Linked DNA regions of Homo sapiens. The protein of the gene in region 2 interacts with the protein of the main gene of each other region in a biochemical or structural test. Each region holds a gene or a part of one and is shown on either strand. Other genes may lie near its edges.

Region 1 (7,027 bases), on a different chromosome or scaffold from region 2:
TCTTACTTTAGTTATAACTTATTGTTTTAGTCTACTTATAGGTCTAGTAAATTTTAAGAATTTCATTTTCTCCAATATTTTACTTTGAAAAATTTCAAACTTTAAAGTTTGAAAGACTAGTATAGTGAGCACTGATGTATCCCTTCGCCTAAATTCACCAACTGGTTGCATTCTGTCACATTTGCTTTATTGCTATCTCTGTATCTATCTATGCACTTTTTTATTGAAACATTTTATGTAAAAAATTGTAAAGGCCAGGTGCAGTAGCTCACACCTGTAATCCCGGCATTTTGGGAGGCTGATGCAGGAAGATTGAGGACAGGAGTAGGAAACCAGCCTGTGCAACACAGCAAGACCTGTCACTACAAAAAAATAAAAATAAAAAATTAGCTGGGCATGGTGGCATGCACCTGTGGTCCCAGCTACTTGGGAGGCTTAGATGGAAGGATTGCTTGAGCTTGGGAGGTTGAGGCTGCAGTGAACCATGATTGTGGCTCACTGTAGCCCACATGACAGAGCAAGACCCTGTTTCAAAAACAACAACAAAACAAAAACAAACCAAAAAAAAAAGATACTTTTTTAAATTGTATATTTACACTTGTTATACATATTTAACGTGTGTGTGTGGAGGGACGTGTGAGCATGACCCTACTGCACAGACGATCAACTGTGTACCAACTAATTCACGCTCCCCTTTACAAACTTTACAGCTAGTCCCGCCCCGCTAGGGACCACATCTTCCAGACCCCCTTGCATTTGGCAAGGGCCATGTGACTAGTTCTCACCAATGGAATGTGAGTAGAAGTGAAAGTGTCTTTCTGGGCTAGGGTGACCTTAGGGGTCCCTGGATGACTATGCCACAGAGGTCAATAAACTTCTAACTTAAAGTCTGCATTTGCTTGTTACATAAGCTATATTGTCTGAACTAATATAATCCCAATAAATTGAAGGACCGGCTGGGCACGGTGGCTCACACCTGTAACCCCAGCACTTTGGGAGGTCGGGGCAGGTGGATCACGAGGTCAGGAGTTCAAGACCAGCCTGGCCAAGATGGTGAAAGTCCGTCTCTAGTAAAAATACAAAAAGTAGCTGGCCGCGGTGGTGGGCACCTGTAATCCCAGCTACTCAGGAAGCTGAGGCAGAGAATTGCTTGAACCCAGGAGGCGGAGGTTGCAGTGAGCCAAGATCGTGCCGCTGCACTCCAGCCTGGGTGACAGAGCAAGACTCCATCTAGAAAAAAAAAATAAAAAAAAAATTGCATGACCTATTCCTGGGTTAAGATTGCAGTTTGAAACACACTGGTGTGGTCTTCTGATTTTCCAAATATTTTTGAACTGTGGAGACCCTCCATTAAATATTTCATTTAAAAGTCAAAACAGAGTGCCGGGTGCAGTGGCATGAGCAGGTAATCCCAGGGGCTGGGAGGCTGAGGCGGGAGGATTGCTTGAGCCCAGGAGTTTGAGGCTAGCCTGGGCAACATAGCGAGACCCCTGTCTCTAAAATAAAATAAAAAGAAATATACAAAAGTCAAAAAGAAGTGTCTCTGATGGAGCCAGAGGTTGAAGGGTGGGGAGAGGCTAAGCCCTAGTCCATTTGAACACGTCCCTACCCACATTACCCTCAAAGGGAACCCTGCAGCATCTTTCCTGACTCTTAGGACCCAGGGAATACTGTGTGACAATGGCTGAGCCAGATGGTTGTCATACCTCCATTTCTCAAAAGAGGAAATGGAGGCTGGGTGCTGTGGCTTACACCTGTAATCCCAGCACTTTGGGAGGCCGAGGTGGGAGGATCACAAGAGGCCAGGAGTCCAGCCTAGCCAACATGGTGAAACCCATCTCTACCAAGACTACAAAAATTTGTCAGGTGTGGTGGCACACACGTGCAATCCCAGCTACTTGGGAGGCTGAGGCATGAGAATTGCTTGAACCCAGGAGGTGGAGGTTACAGTGAGCAGAGATAGAGCCACTGGGTGACATTGAGACTCTGTCTCAAAAAAAAAAAAAAAAAAAAAAGAGTAGATGGAGAAACAGCAGGAGAAGGACTTGAGTGAGGTCACAAACAGCTACCCAGGGCCAGGGCCAGAGCCATCTCCCAGGTCTCTGATGAGGATAGGTCTGTCCCCTCCCTTTCTATGCCTCTCATCTGCCTCCTCCTCTGTGAAGGAGCCACACAGGCCCCCATCTATGAACCAGCACCCCCAAGAGGAGACCCTGGGCATCCCAGGGCCCCAGAAGGCTTGCAACAAAGCCTTGTCCTTAGTCTCCAGCCAGAGACAGTTGCATCCTGGGACCAGTTATCTATTCCTTACTCATCTCTGTTGTTTCTACAACAGCCAAAATGATGCTAACACCTAGTAAGCATCCAGTCCTTTGCATATAGTAGATGCACACACTATAGGTATAATAATAATAATCGTTCAAATTCACATAGCACTTTCTATGTGCTAGACACTCAGCACTTTACAAATATTGACTTTATGTCTCACAACAACCCTGTGAAGTAAATGGTATTATCATCAACCCCATTTGACAGATGAGGAAACTGAGGCAAAAAAGATTGGGTCGGCCGGGCGCAGTGGCTCAGGCCTGTAATCCCAGCACTTTGGGAGGCCGAGGCGGGCAGATCACTTGAGGTCAGGAGTTCAAAACTAGCCTGGCGAACATGGTGAAACCCCATCTCTACTAAAAATAAAAAAAAATTAGCCAGGCATGGTGGCAGGCGCTTGTAACCCCAGCTACAATCCCAGCTACTCAGGAGGCTGAGGCAGGAGAATTGTTTGAACCCAGGAGGCAGAGGTTGCAGTGAGCCAGGATCATACCATTGCACTCCAGCCTGGGCAGCAGAGCAAGACTCCGTCTCAAAAAAAAAAAAAAAAGAGAATTGAGTCATTCACTCAAGGTCACACAGCTAGTAGGTGGTAGAAGGTGGTAAACTCCTTGGATGCTATTATGACATAATAGCTGAAAGAATGAAGATTTGGTGTCAGACTAGATTTTAATCACCTATTTGCAAGGCGATGCAGGGAAACGTGACTTAACAACTCTGAATCTCAATTTCTTTGTTTATAAAATGGAGATAATATTTCCTACTTGGATGGGTTATTGCAAGGCTTAAAAGGGAGAAAACATATCAAATAGCCAACATCTTGCCCATTACATAAAAGGGGCTTAAATGAAAACAAATTCCTTTCGTTATCATTGACCCATCCTTATGCTACAGGCATATGAGTCAGGAAAAATGGAAGGCACAATTCCTTCACTTAAGCATCTCAGCATGCTTTTTTTTTTTTTTTTTTTTTTTAAGACAAGTTTCCCTCTGTTGCCCAGGTTGGAGTGCAGTGGTACAACCTCGGCTCACTGCAACCTCCACCACCTGCGTTCAAGTGATTCTCCTGCCTCAGCCTCCCGAGTAGCTGGGATTACAGGCGCCTGGCACCACGTCCAGCTAATTTTTGTATGCTTAGTAGAGACAGGGTTTCACCATGTTGACTAGGCTGGTCTGGAACTCCTGACCTCAAGTGATCCACCCGCCTTAGCCTCCCAAAGTGCTGGGATTACAGGCGTGTAATCCACAATAAGCCACCATGCCCAGCCTCAGCATGCTTTTAGGAATAAGATTAATCAATCATGAAACAACCAGACAAGTCTCAAGATACTTTCAGTAAAGGATGGAATTAATTGCAGTCAAATATAAGTAAAATCAGAGCAGTGTGTGGCCAGGCTCCAGGCCTTTTCATATGCTGTTCCCTCAGCTGGGAACACTCTTCCCCACCGTCTCTTCTCCCGGCTGACTCCTGCTAAACCGAGGTTCCAGCTTAGATATCAGTCTACTCCTCCAAGGTCAAGAAGTCTGTGACCCCTTCCCCTTCTCCTAAGTCCCTCTGTATCCCACAGTGCCTTTGCTGTCCTTATCATGGCACTCTGTCTTTGGTTGCTGCTGGCTTGTCTGTCCTCCTGCCAAACTGAGCACAGTTTAAGATCTGAAGCAAAGTTGTTTTTTTTGTTGTTTTTTTTTGGTTTTGTTTTGTTTTGGTTTGGTTTTGAGACATAGTCTGACTCCTGTCGCCAGGCTAGAGTGCAGTGGCGTGATCTTGGCTCACTGCAACCTCTGCCTCTACCTGGTCTCTAACTCCTGACCTCAGGTGATCCACCCACCTTGGCCTCCCAAAGTGCTGGGATTACAGGCATGAGCCACCACGTGAAGCAAAGTTTTATCCTCCTGTGTTTCCCCAGTGCCTTACAAAATGTCTTAAATACCATAAGCCTCCAGTGGAAGATTGTTGAAGAAATGAACAAATGAACAATGAATTAATGAATACGGGAGGCTTCTGGGTTGAGGCAAGATGCACTCTGGATATTTAGTTCCTCTGTTTACTAAATGGGAGAAAGTAAGGCAATGGTTTCCATACCTCAACTGAACTGCATACCCTAAGTCACACAAGGAGCTCAAAAAATTACAGACTCTTGGAACTCACCCCAGGAGACTGATTCACTGGGTCTGGAGTGGAGCCCCAAAATTGTTTTAAAAAGTTTCCTATGTGCAACCAGGTTTGTGAATCATAGGGGCTGAAGACTGAATTGACGTAGGATGGGAAGGTGATGTGGGAGGGGAGATAGGGGAAGGGCTGGAGAGGGGCCATATTTTAAGAATGAAGGGTGGGAACAGCCATAGCCTGATATTGGACACGGTCCCATAGCCAGCCAGCATCTGGGGTCCTACTCGATTTTGGGCCTATCCACCCTTCACAAGGACACGGCATGTTTGTTATAGCTTCTATTACCTTTTCTCTTTCATTAGCTCATGGAATCTTCACAACAACCAAGGCTCATTTGATGGGTGAAGAAACTGAGGACCAGAGAAGTGAAGCAAAGCACCATCATCATAGAGCTTCAAGGGGCAGAGCCACATCACCAAACTGTCTCCGACAATGGCCTCTGATCTGTCCTCAAGCTGATGCTATTGGTCAAAGGGACTAGGCCTACATAGCTAGGAAAAATTAGGCTCACCTGGCACTTAAAAACAGATATACAGTATTGCCCTGATGGAAGATTGTTGACATCCCCTATCTCTTCACTTGTCCTGTTTAGAGCACTTGAAGATGCTGCTATTCCAGGCTACCTCAGCCCACCCCTTCTTATCCATCCATTCATCCATCTTTTCATCAACCCACTCATCACATCATTTGTCCATCCATCCTTCCCCTAACCACCTACCCATCTATCCAGCTACTTATTCATCCATTTATCACATGCACCTACATATCTTTCCATCCATCTACTTACCCATCCATGCATCATCCTCCACACCCAACCATCCACCCATAACATCTTTTTATTAATCCATCCACCCATCTATCCACCCAGCCATCTCCCCAGTTACTCATTCATTTGTCTCATCCATCCAGCTATTTCTCCCTCTATTCCATTCATGCATCCCTCCACCCATCTATCACATCCATTCATCACATCACATTCATTCATCAGTCCATTCACCTATCCACCCACCTAAACATACATTTATTCATCCATCCATCTTCCCATTCATTCATCCACTTAATTAATCTTCAATCAAGGTCTACATGGGATCAGGCCCTGTGGAAGGCTGGACTATAACAAAAAGAATGAGATAGATACAGACCTTTCCTTTAAGGAGATTCGAGGTACTTACGGAAATGAGCAACTACCAAAGAAGCAAAATAAATAACCAAGGGAAACTTGTTAAAGGGAAAATAAGGGTAGAAAAGTAATAAGGCCAGGAGTCAGGTTAGCACACAGATATGCATGTTTAGCATCTCATCCTCAGAGTTACTCAGGGTAGTACCAGATTGGCACTGAGCAAGATCCTGGCACTCAAAGCAGAACAACACAAGAGTCACAGTCTACTCTACTCCATTGTGGTAGACACTCCCCAGAACTACCTTGTTCTCCTATAACACAGTGGGGTTATATGTGCCCCAGGGTACATTTGGCTTTCTGGAGACATTTTTTCTTTGGCAAAACTGATGGGAAGAGATGTTACTGGCATCTGGGGAGTAAAGGCCAGGGATGCTGCTTAACATCCTACAGTGCACAGGACAGCCCCTCACCACAGAGAATCTTCCAGGCCAGAAAGTTAACAGTGCTGAGGCTGAGAAACTCATTTATACCAGAGCCTCAGTTCTGTTTGGAGCAGGAGTGTGCCACACCCCAAGAGAAAAATCACTGGTCTAGGTCCATCTTGGCTTTCCCATCTCTTTCCACTACATACTTGTCTTCCCAGCTTTCCTTGAACTAGGGGAGTCTGCCAGGAGGTTTCTGGGGAAGTTTTGCTTTTGGATAAAAGAAACAAGGGCACTGAGGAAAACCTCTTCTCCTCCTGCCTCCAGCTTCAGACACGTAAGTGCAGACATGACAGCTGAAGCTGGGACAGCCAGTTTGGGTTATAATGGGGCAAATACAAGGACCAAAGACAACGCAGTGAGGAGGGCAGAGAGGAAGGAAGGCAAGAGAGTGGGATCTGGCTGACATTGATGATCATCATTGTAGCGCTGTTTTAAGCCCATCATTTCACTCATCCAACAAATGCTTATTGAGCATTTCTTCTGTGCCAGTCACCATGTGAGACATAGTGAGACAAACAAGGCTGAACAAACTACCCAGGTCCCAGAACTCACGGAGTTTATAGTCTGGTGGGGCAGCCAGACACCACAATTCACACCAGCAACTATCTGATCAGAGCGATGACGAGAACCGCAAAGCCAAAACCAGTGTGCCGTGGAAGCACCGGAAGTCCAGGGAGGGCCAAGTCCACCCAGCATCACCACACCAAAGAGCAGCTCTTTAGAATCCTGCTAAAGCTCAAAAACATGAAACCACAACGAGGATTTCTTGCGTGCTTGCTCTGGACCCAGGACTGTTCTAAGCACTCATGGATCCTTCCATTTGATCCTCACAACAGCCATGTCTTCCTCTGCCTCTAACTGAGGCTCTGCTATGTGCCATGTCCCTGACCCACCAATGCACCTCTACTATAGTCATCTTAGGAG
Region 2 (6,984 bases):
CTGTCAGAATCACTGCCAGAAGAGCTTGAAGAAACAAGTTCCTTTGATTTAGGCATCCTGAAAGAAAAATACATTACAAAAATAATTAATAAGGTACTCTACTACTTTCAACTTAGCTCTCCCCCAATCAAAGAAAAAAATCAAGGACAAGTTCCACGGTTCATTCTACCATTTTTGTGGTACTGAGTTGTTACACTGAGCACAAGTTTTAATCTATACCCTTTTAAGTTGCAAATAACACGCAGGGTGCAATGTGCTGAACCCAGTAAGAACAATGAACTAAATGTCATACACTCCTACACCTCTAACCTTTCTCCAGGCCAATGGATCTTTCTATACTTCGTTTTAATGGCATTACACACTATGGGTAGGGTAAACTGCAAGAAGGCAGCAGACAACAATTACTATTAAAACCAGAAGAAATGTAATTCTACTATTACTGCTTTAGACTTCTCATCAACGAGATTGGAACTAACGTAAAATTATTCACTATGGGGAACTGACCCCAACATTTACACAACAGGGAACTAGCTGTACTATGCAAATGTGACATCTAATTAATTTTTACATAATATTTTATTCATATTTTGACTTTTTGGCCGTATCACCAAAATAACGACAGGTACTAATTCAAGAGTACACAAAATTATACGCAATTCAGGCCGGGAACGATGGTTCACGCCTGTAATCCCAAAACTTTAGGAGGCCAAAGCAGGCGGATCACCTGAGGTCAGGAGTTCGAGACCAGCCTGGCCAACATGGTGAAACCCTATCTCCACTAAAAATACAAAAATTAACAGGGCACGGTGGCACACCTGTAGTCCCAGCAATTCGGGAGACTGAGGCAGGAGAATCGCTTCAACACCGGAGGCAGAGGTTGCAGTGACACAAGGTCACATCATTGCACTCCGGCCTGGGCAACAAAGCAAGACTCCATCTCAAAAAAAAAAAAAAATCTTACACAATTCACAGCAATTCATTACATTTTACACAGATTTTTCTACTCTGGAACATAATTAAAATTTGAAGAACCTATTTATGGGAGGTGCAAAACCTATTTATGGGAGGTGCAAAACCTTCCCGCAAATTCCTACCATGCTGGTAACTTCCCAGGTCCCCCCAGAGACATAGATAACTTAGTGCCTTGCTTACAAGTGGGTGTTTACTGAGTGCCTGAGTGCAAGTTTGCAGAAAGCAAACTATCAGTAAGCCTAAGCCCCAAATTTCAAGGAATTCCAAGATACGTGGATACCTCTATTCAAGGCACTTATAACACCAGGTCATAAAACGCTGATTATCAAAATATCTTTTGCTCTCCCCATCTCAGAAGAGATTAGGTCCTATTAACCCATTTATGCCAGAGGTTGCAATTTTTTGAATTTATGCAAGCAGACCTTGGCGATGATCTTGAGCAGTAGCACATAAATAACTCCCACATGCTTAGCGTTCCAATAATGGAACACTAGGCATAAATTAGCTAATTTCTGTATGCGTTAAAGGGCCTAATAAACACATCACACACTGTATTTGTTTAATACAAGAAAAAAAGACTTAAAATTCCTCCTTAAAAAAAAATCATAAATAATCTAGCTCTCTAGATGAAACTTGCATTAGCACTGACATTGCATATGTTCCAAAATAGGAGGTCAAGGAAAAAGAAGTGGGCCACCCCAATCCTAGCCATTAAATTCAAAAAGCTCAATCTGATTTTAACTGGTAATGTCTTCAAGGGTAAATTCAGAAGGGAAAAGCAATGTTCATGACCACGTTTTATCCGTTTTTCCTGTTTCTGCTCCATTTTGCAACCTCATCTCTAAAATCAATTTAGTTAAGTTTTTTATGCTAATTAATACGACAAAAAGATATTTTTTAAAAAGGTAATTAAATTGAACATAATTTTTCACTTTGAAACTGTCGATCATAACTACCGTCTGTTATCAAAAACTGCCTGGGGGCCTAAGAATTTTTCAAAGAACCACCTGGTACTCAACCCAAAGAAGTCCACTGGAGAAGAAAGGTAACGGTAACTAAAACCAGCCTCTAAACTTTTAACAAATATATATTTACCTTAATGAGCCTGTTCCAATGTGGGGGTGGGGGGAGAAGCAGCTTGTAATTCAAGTAACTGATACTGAAACCACTATTGTAGAATTTATACAAAACGCAACTTTAAAAAGAGAAACGAAATCTTCAGCCTTTGCTGATTGAGGGAAAGATCAGAAAAAAACGAGGTGAAAATGAACCAGGACTGAAGGGCACACGACTTCGGTATAACAGGAAGGTGACAAGCACAAGACCAGGGAAGGGGTCGCGCGGCCCCAGCAAGCCGCTAGAACCCCGTGGCTAGCAGCCGCTCGGGCGAGGGGAGACAGGTTGGTCGGAGGGGGCGTGGGAGGCGGCGAAGTGCGGAGAAGACGGCGTGGGAAGGGGCGGGATTTGCACCAAGCGCCATTTTCTTCTCTCGAAGCGTTCCCTCCCCCTGCACATCAGCCGTTCTTCCCCCGGCCCCCTCCCGCCCGCATCCGCTCTCCCAGTCTCCAGAGCGCCCCGCTCAGGGCGAGGGGCGGGGGAAGAGTAGGTAACCGCACGCGCCCCACCTAGGCAGGCCGCCGCCGCATTGTCCCGGGGACGCCGCGACTCTCTCCCCGCGACTCCTCACTCCCCGGCCGCCCTCAATCTACCGCCCCGGGCCGCAGCGCCCGCCGCCTCGACTCGGCTCCCCGGGGACAGGAGTCTACCGCGGAAGGGCCCACAGCGCGTCAGGCGTGGAGTCAGAAACGGAGAAGGGGGCCGGGGACGCCGAGGGGAAGGGGGAGGTAAGGCAGAGCCGCCATTTCCCGCGGCCATTGCCGGCGAGAGGAGTGGAGGGCCGAAGGCAGCTCACGGCCCGGCTGGGAGGGTGGGGGCCCCGAGGAGTAGGGGTAGGGGGTCCCGCGCACTCACGCTTCGCTCGGCTCTAGCAGTCGAACACCCTCTTGGTCGTTCGCTCGCGACTGACAGAGAACCGGAAGTGACGGCAGCCAGGAGACGCCGGCCCCGCCGCGCTGGGGCTGCGGTCACGTGATGGGGCGTGGCCTCCCCACAGAAACCAACACTTAGACCCTTTCCAGGGCCTTAAAGGGACCGCGTCTCTTCCTAAATGGGTGACGCGAAAGTCAGATGTTGGAAGATTACATCTGACCCTTGAGAGAATGAAAGAGCTAATATCCTTCCTGTAGGAGATAGCTTAAAAAAAAATTAAAAAAAAGGAAAACGCCAATAAAACATGAGTGACAAGCGCCAAGCTTTGCGTTTGTTCAATAAATGTTTACTCTAATGAAGCGAAGGGGTCATAATGAAAAAGATCAATACTCTGGCCCATTTTCCCAGAAATGGTCTTCCTACCCCACTTCACCCACCTCAATACATGCCTCTGCCTCCTAAAATCCAAAGGAAGGAAGCTAAAGTCACAGCGTTTAATTCCAGAAAGTGCAAGAAATCTTTGGAGTACTCCTTATTCCTGTATTGAAGTCCTGGAGATGTAAGGGAGTTCACAGAAGGCAAGAGGAATCCATATACAAGCAGGAATATAGCTAAAAGATTATTTGAATATGTATTTGAATGAATACTTCCTACAGCTAAGAATCAATATAAAGGCATATCTATTAACAAAGATTTATCAAGCACCCACTACGTGTCAGACGCTGCAGGAGGCAATTTACATTACTCATCCTAACAAGCATGTTCCAAAGCAGAAATGACTGTTCTCTCCATTTTATAGACGAGGAAACCAAAGTTAACGCCCTATGGAGAGGATATTTCCTGTTACAGCTGAAGCGTGAATTGTCCTTATGTTCTCTCCCTCCAGACCCTATTTTCCTGCCTCAGGTAGAGGAATGGTATGGGATTTTACAAAGTAGAGGATGGAATCCTGTCGAAGCTCAGAATTGCACATCGGAGATGCCACAGAGGCTAAGGAAGGGCAGTGGGTTGCAGAAAGGGAGGAGTGTTTGGATCTACATATGGAGCAGTTAGACCTGTGGTTCCCACCCATCCCACCCTTATAGGAGAAGAGAGTTATATATTCCCTGCAAACATTAAAGCTGGGAGCGGAATGTGTAATGGGGTTGAGACGCAAAGAACACAGCGGATGGAATCAAAGTCTGAACACTAAACGTGAAAGCATCCCCCACACGTCCCTTTCTAGAATTACCTGACTTTTAAAGGATTAAATGCTGACAAAAATACAAACTAATCCCTTAGTTTGTTGTGAAACTCTCCATCATAATGAAATAAAAGAAGCCATGAAAATAAACACTGACATCAGGCGCGGTGGCTCACCCCTGTAATCCGAGCACTTTGGGAGGCCGAGGCGGGTGGATCGCCTGAGGTCAGGAGTTCGAGACCAGCCTGACAAATATGGTGAAACCCCGTCTCTACTAAAAACACAAAAATTAGGCGGGCGTGGTGGCGTGTGCCCAGCTACTCAGGAGGGTAAGACAGGAGAATCATATGAACCTGGGAAGTGGAGGTTGCAGTGAGCTGAAATTGTACTACTGCACTCCAGCCTGGATGACAGAGTGAAACTCCGTCTCAAAAAAAAAAAGAAAAGAAACACTGACATTATGCATTGTCATGGGACACTGCGCAGCTCCACACCTAGCTAAAGAAATGCTTAATATTCAAGGTAAACCACGTACACTTAAACTAATATGGTATCCCCTCCATCTGCAACCCTTCCTGCTTTAACAAGTTTTCATTCAGTTTCTGTGTCACTGAGGGAACCTGGGCAGTGTGCCTGCTGTAGGTTTGGGTTTCGGTTCTCTAAGCGTCGGAGGTGGAGAGCTGTTAAGGAGGTATGCATTTTTAGAAGTAGGGAGACCTGAAACTTTGCATGCAAATTTGTTGGCTCAATTTTCCTGGGTGTGGTACTTTGTAAAACTAATCGAAAATCCTTGATCCTAAGCGTTGCCCATTTTTAAAAGGTAAACATAACTCAAGAAAATAAACAAAAATAATTTTTTACATAGATGAAAGAGGAAGGAAACTTTTTTATTTTAAACAAAATAGGGGCCAGGCGTGGTGGCTTATGCCTGTAATCCCAGCATTTTGGGAGGCTGAGGCGGGTGGATCACCTGAGGTTAGGGGTTTGAGACCAGCCTGCAAACCTGATGAAACCCCGTCTCTACTAAAAATACAAAAAATTAGCCGGGCGTGGTAGCGGGCACCTGTAATGTCAGCTACTCGGGAGACTGAGGCAAGGAGAATCGCTTGAACCCAGGAGGCAGAGGTTGCAGTGAGCTGAGGCTGCACTGAGCCTAGATCACACCCATTGCACTCCAGCCTAGGCAACAAGAGCGAAACTCCGTCTCAAAAAAAAAAAAAAAAAGACAGCAGTTGCTTTCAAATAATAGAATGGGAAGGAGGTGTAATTCACATGCATTTGTACATTGTGGGGTGGGGAATAGCTCCTTTTATAGGCAAATTCCTAGAGGGCATCTTTAAAAGTGAAAGAACTCCCACTTTCCACTCCAAGCCTTGGTCTGGAAGAAGAGGGTGGCACAAAAAGGAATGTGCTGAATTTGGAGAATCTGTAGGTGTCCCAGAAAGGGAGGTAGACTGGGAAGTAGGGCTGAGAAGGGAAATAGCTCACAAACTATGAAAGGGACAGAGCTTGAGGAGGAGACTGCCAGGAAGAAGTTCCTGGAGGCCTGGAGTATGGCACGGGACTGTTAATGCGGTTCCCTCCAAGGCCTTATGCTGTCGACACCCTCCGTTACTCACTTCTTTCAAAGCTTCCGAAAAAGGCTTATTCAAGTATCAGGATATTATTTTGAAATCTTACCCAATGTGGCTTTTGTTACTAGCACTTCCTGCTTTCTGACCTTCACTCTTTCCCCATCCCCCGTTTTCTCAGCTACAGCATTTGACTAGAAGAAGGATGTTAGACCAGAACACACAGACCAGATTCTTGGCTTTTGACTTTTTTAAACTATTAGGATTCCAGGCATAAATTACAGATTTAAGGTAATGTGCTATTAAAGTTTTTTTCTGGCTGGGTGCTGTGGATCCTGCCTGTAATCCCAGCAATTTGGGAGGCCGAGGTGGGTGGATCACTGGAGCCCAGGAGTTGCAGACCAGCCTGGACAACATAGTGAGACCCTGTCTCTACAAAAAATACAAAAAAATGGGCCAGGCACAGCGGCTCACGCCTGTAATCCCAGCACTTTGGGAGGTCCAGGTGGGTGGATCACGAGGTCAGGAGATCGAGACCATCCTGGCCAACATGGTGAAACCCCGTCTCTACTAAAAATACAAAAATTAGCTGGGCGTGATGGTGCGTGCCTGTAGTCCCAGCTACTCAGGAGGCTGAGGCAGGAGAATCGCTTGAACCCAGGAGGCAGAGGTTGCAGTGAGTCAAGATCATGCCACCGCACTCCAGCCTGGTGACAGAGACAGACTCCATCTCAAAAAAAAAAAAAGAAAAAGAAAAAGAAAAAGAAAAAAATCAGCTGGGTGTAGTGGTAAGTTCCTGTAGTCTCAGCTACTCAGGAGGCTGAGGCAGGAGGATTGCTTGAGCCTGAGAGGTCGAGGCTGCAGTGAGCCATGAGTGCGCCACTGCATTCATTCCAGCCTGGGTGACAGCCTGGGTGTTTTTGAGACCCTGTCTCAAAAACAAACAAACAAAAATAGTTCCTTTTAGCCCACCCCACTCGCCTGTAGAGATTATTGCAACTGTGAAAGGGAGGAGTCAGAAGAGAAAGGAGATGAGGCCCCTCTTCAGTGTCTAAGGAGTAGAGAAGTAGTTCTGCTGTCTGTCCCCACACCAGCCCTGGGGAAGGAAGGAAGCATCAAATTCCCAGAGGGCTTAGGGATCTGAGAGAGCAAAGCAAACTGGTGCCTTGCTTTCCAGGCAGCCGAGCTCTCCGAGCTCCTCTGCAACCCAAGCGCCCCTCCCTCCACCACAGAGTTGGGGTAGAGATATCTGTGTGGTGTGTCAGGATG
Region 3 (6,907 bases), on a different chromosome or scaffold from region 2:
CAGCTCAAACATCTGCTCTGGTGGAAGGCTGGCAACTGCTTTGCTAATGGACTCAGGGGCATCCTCAGGACTGATGGTCTCTCCATAAGGTGACTCAATGACAGGGGCACCAGTGCCAAGGCCTAATCAAGAAGAAAGTACAAGAAAGTTAGGGAGGCAAAACAAAAAGCTAAATCATTTCAAATATCTACTTTTCAGGGCTGCTGTAAGAACCAGCTGATAATTTTAGATTCTCCAGAGCTGAGAAATAAATGATGTGAAAGCCTCTTGTTTCTGTGGAGGAAAGTGAGAGTGTATTTTCTGTTCTCAGAGGAAAGCTGGGGATCATGATCACATGGAAGGACAATGTTAACCTAAGTTAGAGAACTAGGCACATTGACTTCTTTTAACAAGTCATTTCAGAAACAAAAGGTTAAAAGAGAAAAATACGCTAACTTCAAAAATTCCTGAAAAGAGTGACAGGAATGACTAATGCCACAGTTAGTACTACTAATGGCTTGATGAATTTGAATTCATCTTTAACTGGAAATAACTCCTTAGCAATGGAAATTCTTTTTTTTTTTTTTTTTTTTGAGACAGAGTCTCACTCTGTCGCCCAGGCTGGAGCAACTGAAGAATTTCTAATGTCAACTTTATCTGTTTCTTAAAGATATACACTTACTAGCAAGCCTCCAGCATGCTTAGGTCTGCAGTGACCCTATGCATCCCTACAGTGCTTGCCAGAACAGTTTTGAAACGGTTTGAGGCCTTGCCCTGCTCCATCCAGAGCAAGGGTATAGAAATTTCAGACAATTACTTGAAAAAAAATTTATAAAAAGTTTTTAAAAAGATATATATAATACTTGCCTAACTCAGGCACATCAGGTCAGTCAAGTAATAAACAAGCTGCGTGGCTAACCATTTCAGCATATTCTAAAACATATCAGAAATGGAAAATCTTCATTGTTACATCTTTACTAACTCATACTGCATCCAAGTTGGATTTGTACTCACTCTTCAGCTCTTCTTTGTTCTTTTCACTGGCAGCATTGTCCACTCGAAGTGCTCTCCCACTGAATTCGCGCCCATTCAGGTTCCGCATGGCACTAAGTGCTGTCTCTTGGTCTTGGTATTCACAGAAGCCATAACCCTTTGGCTTTCCTGTCTCTCTATCGTATACCAATCTGGAGAGCAGAACCAAGTGTCAGGAACAAATGTTACACACATACAGGGTTCCTGCTAACATTGCCATGCTTTAATTGGGCCCACTGTAACATAAATAACCTTATATCTCTGACAGCCTCACAGAAATATTTTTTAAAACTTTTTTTTTTTTTTTCCTGAGATGGAGTCTTGCTCTGTTGCCCAGGCTGGAGTGCAGTGGCATGATCTTGGCTCACTGCTATCTCTGCCTCCCGGGTTCAAGCAATTCTCCTGTCTCAGCCTCCTGAGTAGCTGGGACTACAGGCATGGGCCACCACGGCGGCTAATTTTTGTATTTTTAGTAGAGACAAGGTTTCACCACATTGGTCAGGCTGGTCTCGAACTCCTGACCCCAGGTGATCCGCCTGCCTCGGCCTCCCAAAGTGCTGGGATTACAGGCTTGAGTCACTATGCCCTGCCTAAAAAACATTTTTAACGAAAAAAACATATTTTAGGTAAGAATAAATGTCAATTGTATAGTGTATCAATTATATCTCAATAAAGCTGTTACAAGAACAAAATGTATGTGAAAAGTCACCAGTAAAGAAAACCTGCCATTATTACTAAGAGCCAAATCTGTGGTGATTTTTAAGAAGCTCCCACCATGAAGGAAAAGGGGATCTCACCTGAAACTAACAACAGGTCCAACCTCAGAAAAGATGTCCTTCAACTGCTCTTCAGTAGCTTCATAAGGAATGTTCCCCACTAAGGAAGAAAATAGGTAACATTAAAATTCTGAGTTTATAACATAGATCTTTAGTGAGAAAGTAAACTTATATCATCAAATATAAGACTCAAAATAGTGTTCTCCAATCCCAATTCCATTGTATTTCTTCAGACCTCTTAACAAAGGAAATATACCACTGAAACTAAATACAAAATGTGTAGGTACTCTCAAATGTTAGTTCTCAGACTGATCTGACACGTGTTAGATTTTCCTTAACTTTGGTGCAAATAAATACTTTGGCACTGGTATTTACCTAAAGATCTGCAAGTCTCATCAGTGACTACAAAAAATATCAATGTTATTTAATATAATTTTTAAAACAGGTTCCTATGTATTTCCACACATACAACATTTAAGGGAGAATGACGATGAATGTAGTGAAAGATGTTTAAAAAGTATTCTGAACTACTTTGTCATGTCCCTTTCAAATGGTACTCTAAAATAATCACACGTATTTTTAAAAACAACTTATTTCAGCCAAAAAGATAATTCAGAATCGTTTCGATCCTTTTTAAAATTCCTCTGAGGAGATCTTAATAGTTCATTCATTCATTCACTTACAAGCCATCTCAGGACACCAGGTGGCCGCTACCACTATTGATGCACTAAAATGTTACAGATAAAAAGCAAAGGATGAAAGTCCTTAGGAGAGGACAGTAAGTGGACACTAGGATCTATACCCTCAGCATATAGTCTGTATTCTGGGGCAGAGGATGAGAAGTAGTACGGGACAGTGAGGAGCTGTTACCGTGAGCCTTCTCCTCTAGAGAATAATTGAAGCTCATGAAAGGAGAAACGCACAGAAGCTGAACGCTAGTCTAACTTCCCCACTGATATTGCGGAAAGCCTACGAGACCTCGGCAGAATGGGAATATCTCTTTGCTCATGAGTCCACCAGGTTGGACGCCCTACAGGATAAGCAGGGAGAACTGCACGTCCGAACCGTCAGCGGCTCCGGTAGCGATTCATGAGATAGAAGGTGCAGAGGGGAGTCCCTCCCCGAAGCTTGACTACAACGAATTCCTCTCACCGAACACAGAACGTAGAGAACGATCCACCGCTGGGTCTCTCACAGTCAAACCCGCCATAGCTCTGTTGAGTCGGCTTCCGGTGCGCCAAAGCACACTTCCGTACGGAGCACAAGCCCAGCGCTGAGCACGCTTCCGTACGGCGCGTGAGCCGGAAGGGCCTGGGCGGAACGGACGCAGAGCCCCTCCCCTGGAGACATTCTGTTAGCCGCAGGCGCGAGTTGCGTCCACCGGAGGGCTATATTCTCACTCCTGAGATTAACTCTGTTCCGAGCCAGATGCAGGCGAGTCCAGGCTAATTTGAAGGGTTTCAGCCTGCAGACTTCCTTCTTATTAATTTTCTCTTAGGTTGATGCAAGTACTCCTCAACCACAATAAAGGCGCAGCGGCTTTACCATGGTAACAGGGAAGTCCTTTGCTGACAACTGTGGGGCTTGCATTTTAGTTCCGCCCTATCAAGGGAGGGAAATGCTTGGGCCCGTCCCAGCAGCGTGCATATTATTTGCTAAACCTGTTCGTGTGTGGAGTGAGATGAGGAAAGGGCATGCCAGCCGAGAGAAGCATAGTTAAAGAAATGGGAGAGGTAAAGGGAGAACAGACCTCTGTCCTCGTGTAGTCCGTGGGTTCCATGTGCTTCGTGGTGGGGCGGTGCGGCAGGGGATTCTGGCAGGCAGAGTATCGGAAACAGAAAACGTCATTCATCGGTTTTTCCACACTTTGGTGCCCACGCGCCTGGGATATGGCATGCAGGGCAGGTCGTTGTATCATCCCGGAAAGGCAGACCCTGCCGGGGTTGGAGGAAATCCAGGGGGCACCTCAGGAGGACAGGGTTAGGGGATAAGCAAAGGAAGGAGCCAAGAGCGCTACCTTTGAGGGACTTGTCCGAAAAAGGAAGACGGTAAAATAGCCACGGAATTGGAGGCATGGACGTTTTTATTAATTCCACATGTATTAAAAGTATATGGGCCGGGCGCGGTGGCTCATGCCTGTAATGCCAACACTTTGGGAGGCCGAGGCGGGCGCATCACCTGAGGTCGGGAGTTGGAGACCAGCCTGGCCAACATGGAGAACCCCTTTTCTACTAAAAATACAAAATTAGCCGGGCGTGGTGGCGCATGCCTGTAATCCCAGCTGCTCAGGAGGCTGAGGCCAGAGAATCGCTTGAACCCGGGAGATGGATGTTGCGGTGATCCGAGATCTGCCATTGCGCTCCAGCCTGGGCAACAAGAGCGAAACTCCATCTCCAAAATAAAAGTATATGAAATATGATAAATATTTAGAAAAAATTAATAAGTGCTAGTTTACACCATGAAGCATATCACTTTAAGAAGTAATTCTGGTAAAGATGGAAAGTTTGAGAAGAGTATACCCATTTCCATGACTCTAGAGTCCCATTTGCAATCACTGTGTGACCAAGAGGACACCTTGTGTAATGGAATGGTCCAAAAGGAGATTTACAGCTCTGTAGAAGGCACAGTTTCAAAGAGTTTTGGTGTGTCATTGTTCCGTTGTGGTGAACTTTTGCTAAATGCATGTACGGCTGAGTATATTTCTAACTCAGTGTTTGGCAAACTTACATAAACAAAAGATTAACCTGGGGTCTTTGAGTAAGAGTATAGATTCCTGGGGCTCCACCCCAGCCCTATGGAATGGGACTCCAGGGAAAGAACTTGGGAATCGTTATATTTAAACAAGTGCCACTGGCGATTCTTAGGGTCAGGTAATTTGAGTAGCATTGTAGTTATTGAGGTAGCTTTATGGCAGCATTTAAGACACGCATGCTTTCTTATGAAATTTCCCTTAAAGTAGTTCTCAAAGTTCTCAACCCTTGTGGAGGAGCATTTTTGGAAATGTACAGTGGCATTTTCAGTTGTTGCAATGACTACTGCTAGGGGAAGAGAAGCCAGAGATGATAAATGGACTGCCATGTCCAAGGCAGTTCTACAGGATGAACCCCTCCCCCCACTGAATGCCAATAATGTCTCTCCCCTTGAGAAACACTTAATATCAGCCATATTAGACCAAATGGACCCTGGATCTGAATGCTATGTTGCACTGCCAGCCTTGCATAAATAATTTTTACTTTAGCCTTCTTACAACTGTGTAGCTGATCCCAATGAGTTAGTAATAATAAAAGCTAACATTTATTAAGCACTTGCTGTGTCCTCATTGTATTAGTTTTCTATTGCTGTGTAACAAATTTCCACAAACTTAGTGGCTTACAACACTCATTTGTTAGCTCACAGTTCTGTAGGTCAGAAGTTTGGGTGGACATGAGTGGGTTCTTTGCTTAGGATCTCACAAGGCTGAAATCAAGGTGTTGTACTCTTATCTGGAATCTTTGGGAGAAGAATCAGCTTCCAAGCTCATTTTTCTTGTTGGCAGAATTTGGTTGGCTGTGGTTGTAGGACCGAGGTCCTTGTTTCTTTGCTGGCTATTGGCTGGAGGGCTGTAGCTCTTAGCTCCTAAGGGCTTCTTTTTGGTCCTTACATGTGGGTTTCTACATCTCAGAGCCAGTGATGGCACATTGAAACCTTCTTATGCTGTGAATCTCTGACCAGAGATTCTCTCTTTTGACCAGCTGGGGAGAACTCTGCTTTTAAATGGCTCTTGTGTTTAGGCAAGGCCTACCCAGATAATCTCCCTGTATTAAAGTCAACTGTGCTATGTGAAAACCTAATCATAAGAGTAAAATCCATTATAATCACAGTCTTAGGAATTATGCAGGGCAAATACATCAAGAGGTCAAGAAATCTTGGAGCCAGTCAACTGTACCCATTTTATTGATAAACATGTCTAAAGAAGTTTCAGTAACTTTGCCTAGGTCCCACAACAAGCAAGCTAAGGCATGGTTTGAGCTCAGGTTGCTCTGGCTCCAGAGACTGCTTAATTGTTATATCTCCTGCCTCTCAATGTAACTGAGGAAATATGGATGGCTCAGCATATTTTGTCACTGTTTTTAGGAAAGAGTACAGAACATGTGACCTGGTGATGGTGGGTCCGTGGCTCATAACAATGAGCTACTCAAGAAAAGGGTGGGGGACTTAGCCAGGGCTTGTTCTGCTATCATCAGCCGTCTGTGGGAAATAGACTATTGATTCTGTGACTTCAGCAACCAACTTCACTCTACTGGTTATAAAAGAGGAGGTGTGTGCAAGGGATGTATCCCAAGTGCTTGCTTTTTTATATTTAGATTTCACTTATACACTGTGTGCTAGTGACTCCTGCCTCAGTGCCTGTCTTGTGAGAGTCTTTCCCTTCATTGATATACTCCCTGAGTGACAGCATTTCCTTTGCCTCCAGTTTATAGCAAAATGAAGACAGAAGGTGGGATGTTTCATGCTGTTGTTGATGTTATGACTGAGCCTCAGTTAACGATGTAGGTATGATATGAAAAGGTAGGGGGAACACAAGCAAAGAAGCATTTCTACAAAAAACGGGACTAAATATATAGGGTAAATGTTATTTGGGGCTTTGAATGGAGGAGAAAGGGAACCTAGTGGAGAATCAAAGAATTTGGGAGACCACAGTCATGATTTGTGGGGCACTGGCAGAAAACTTTGTTGAAAAGTCCTGAGTTCTTAACCAGTCATGTCGATGACACTAAGAATCTTGAGTGAGGTAAACGTAAGTGAAACAAGCAGAGATATTCAAGACTGTGAAGGCACAGAGACTTGGGTTCTTTCTCCCAGTCATAAAAGATTAAATTTCTAAGGCTGGGGTACATACTACTTCATGTTTGATCCATGTTTGAACCTCTTCAAAGAGTCATGGAATAAAATCCCTCATTGGTCTCGCAGGGGATATCTGGAAAGGCAGCAACTCCTGGATAGTTGTCATTGCATGAAAAAGGTGCCAGATGAGACTGGTAGCATTACCTGTGTTAAGAGAAATCTTCAATGAGCAGCGCCTGCAAGAGCTAAGGAAACTTGTAGCCAGAGAGCACCTGAATGCTGACGTGGATTCTGAT

The links.
Region 1: the proteins of SUB1 (region 2) and HNF4A form a complex in vitro, tested with the Homo sapiens proteins (one study listed by BioGRID).
Region 3: the proteins of SUB1 (region 2) and CSTF2 form a complex in vitro, tested with the Homo sapiens proteins (one study listed by BioGRID).

The regions. Positions count from the first base shown.
Region 1 is NC_000020.11:44,358,695-44,365,721, reverse strand, and holds part of HNF4A (hepatocyte nuclear factor 4-alpha), read right to left. Parts: exon of another isoform or gene 4,801-7,027; intron 1-4,800. UniProt on the Homo sapiens protein: Transcriptional regulator which controls the expression of hepatic genes during the transition of endodermal cells to hepatic progenitor cells, facilitating the recruitment of RNA pol II to the promoters of target genes. Activates the transcription of CYP2C38.
Region 2 is NC_000005.10:32,581,585-32,588,568, reverse strand, and holds the start of SUB1 (activated RNA polymerase II transcriptional coactivator p15), read right to left. Parts: upstream 3,013-6,984; 5' UTR 2,944-3,012; exon of another isoform or gene 2,598-2,943; intron 2,201-2,597; exon of another isoform or gene 2,068-2,200; intron 58-2,067; 5' UTR 57-57; coding exon 1-56.
Region 3 is NC_000023.11:100,816,507-100,823,413, reverse strand, and holds the start of CSTF2 (cleavage stimulation factor subunit 2), read right to left. Parts: upstream 3,024-6,907; 5' UTR 2,998-3,023; coding exon 2,940-2,997; intron 1,888-2,939; coding exon 1,809-1,887; intron 1,164-1,808; coding exon 994-1,163; intron 795-993; exon of another isoform or gene 662-794; intron 123-661; coding exon 1-122. UniProt on the Homo sapiens protein: One of the multiple factors required for polyadenylation and 3'-end cleavage of mammalian pre-mRNAs. This subunit is directly involved in the binding to pre-mRNAs.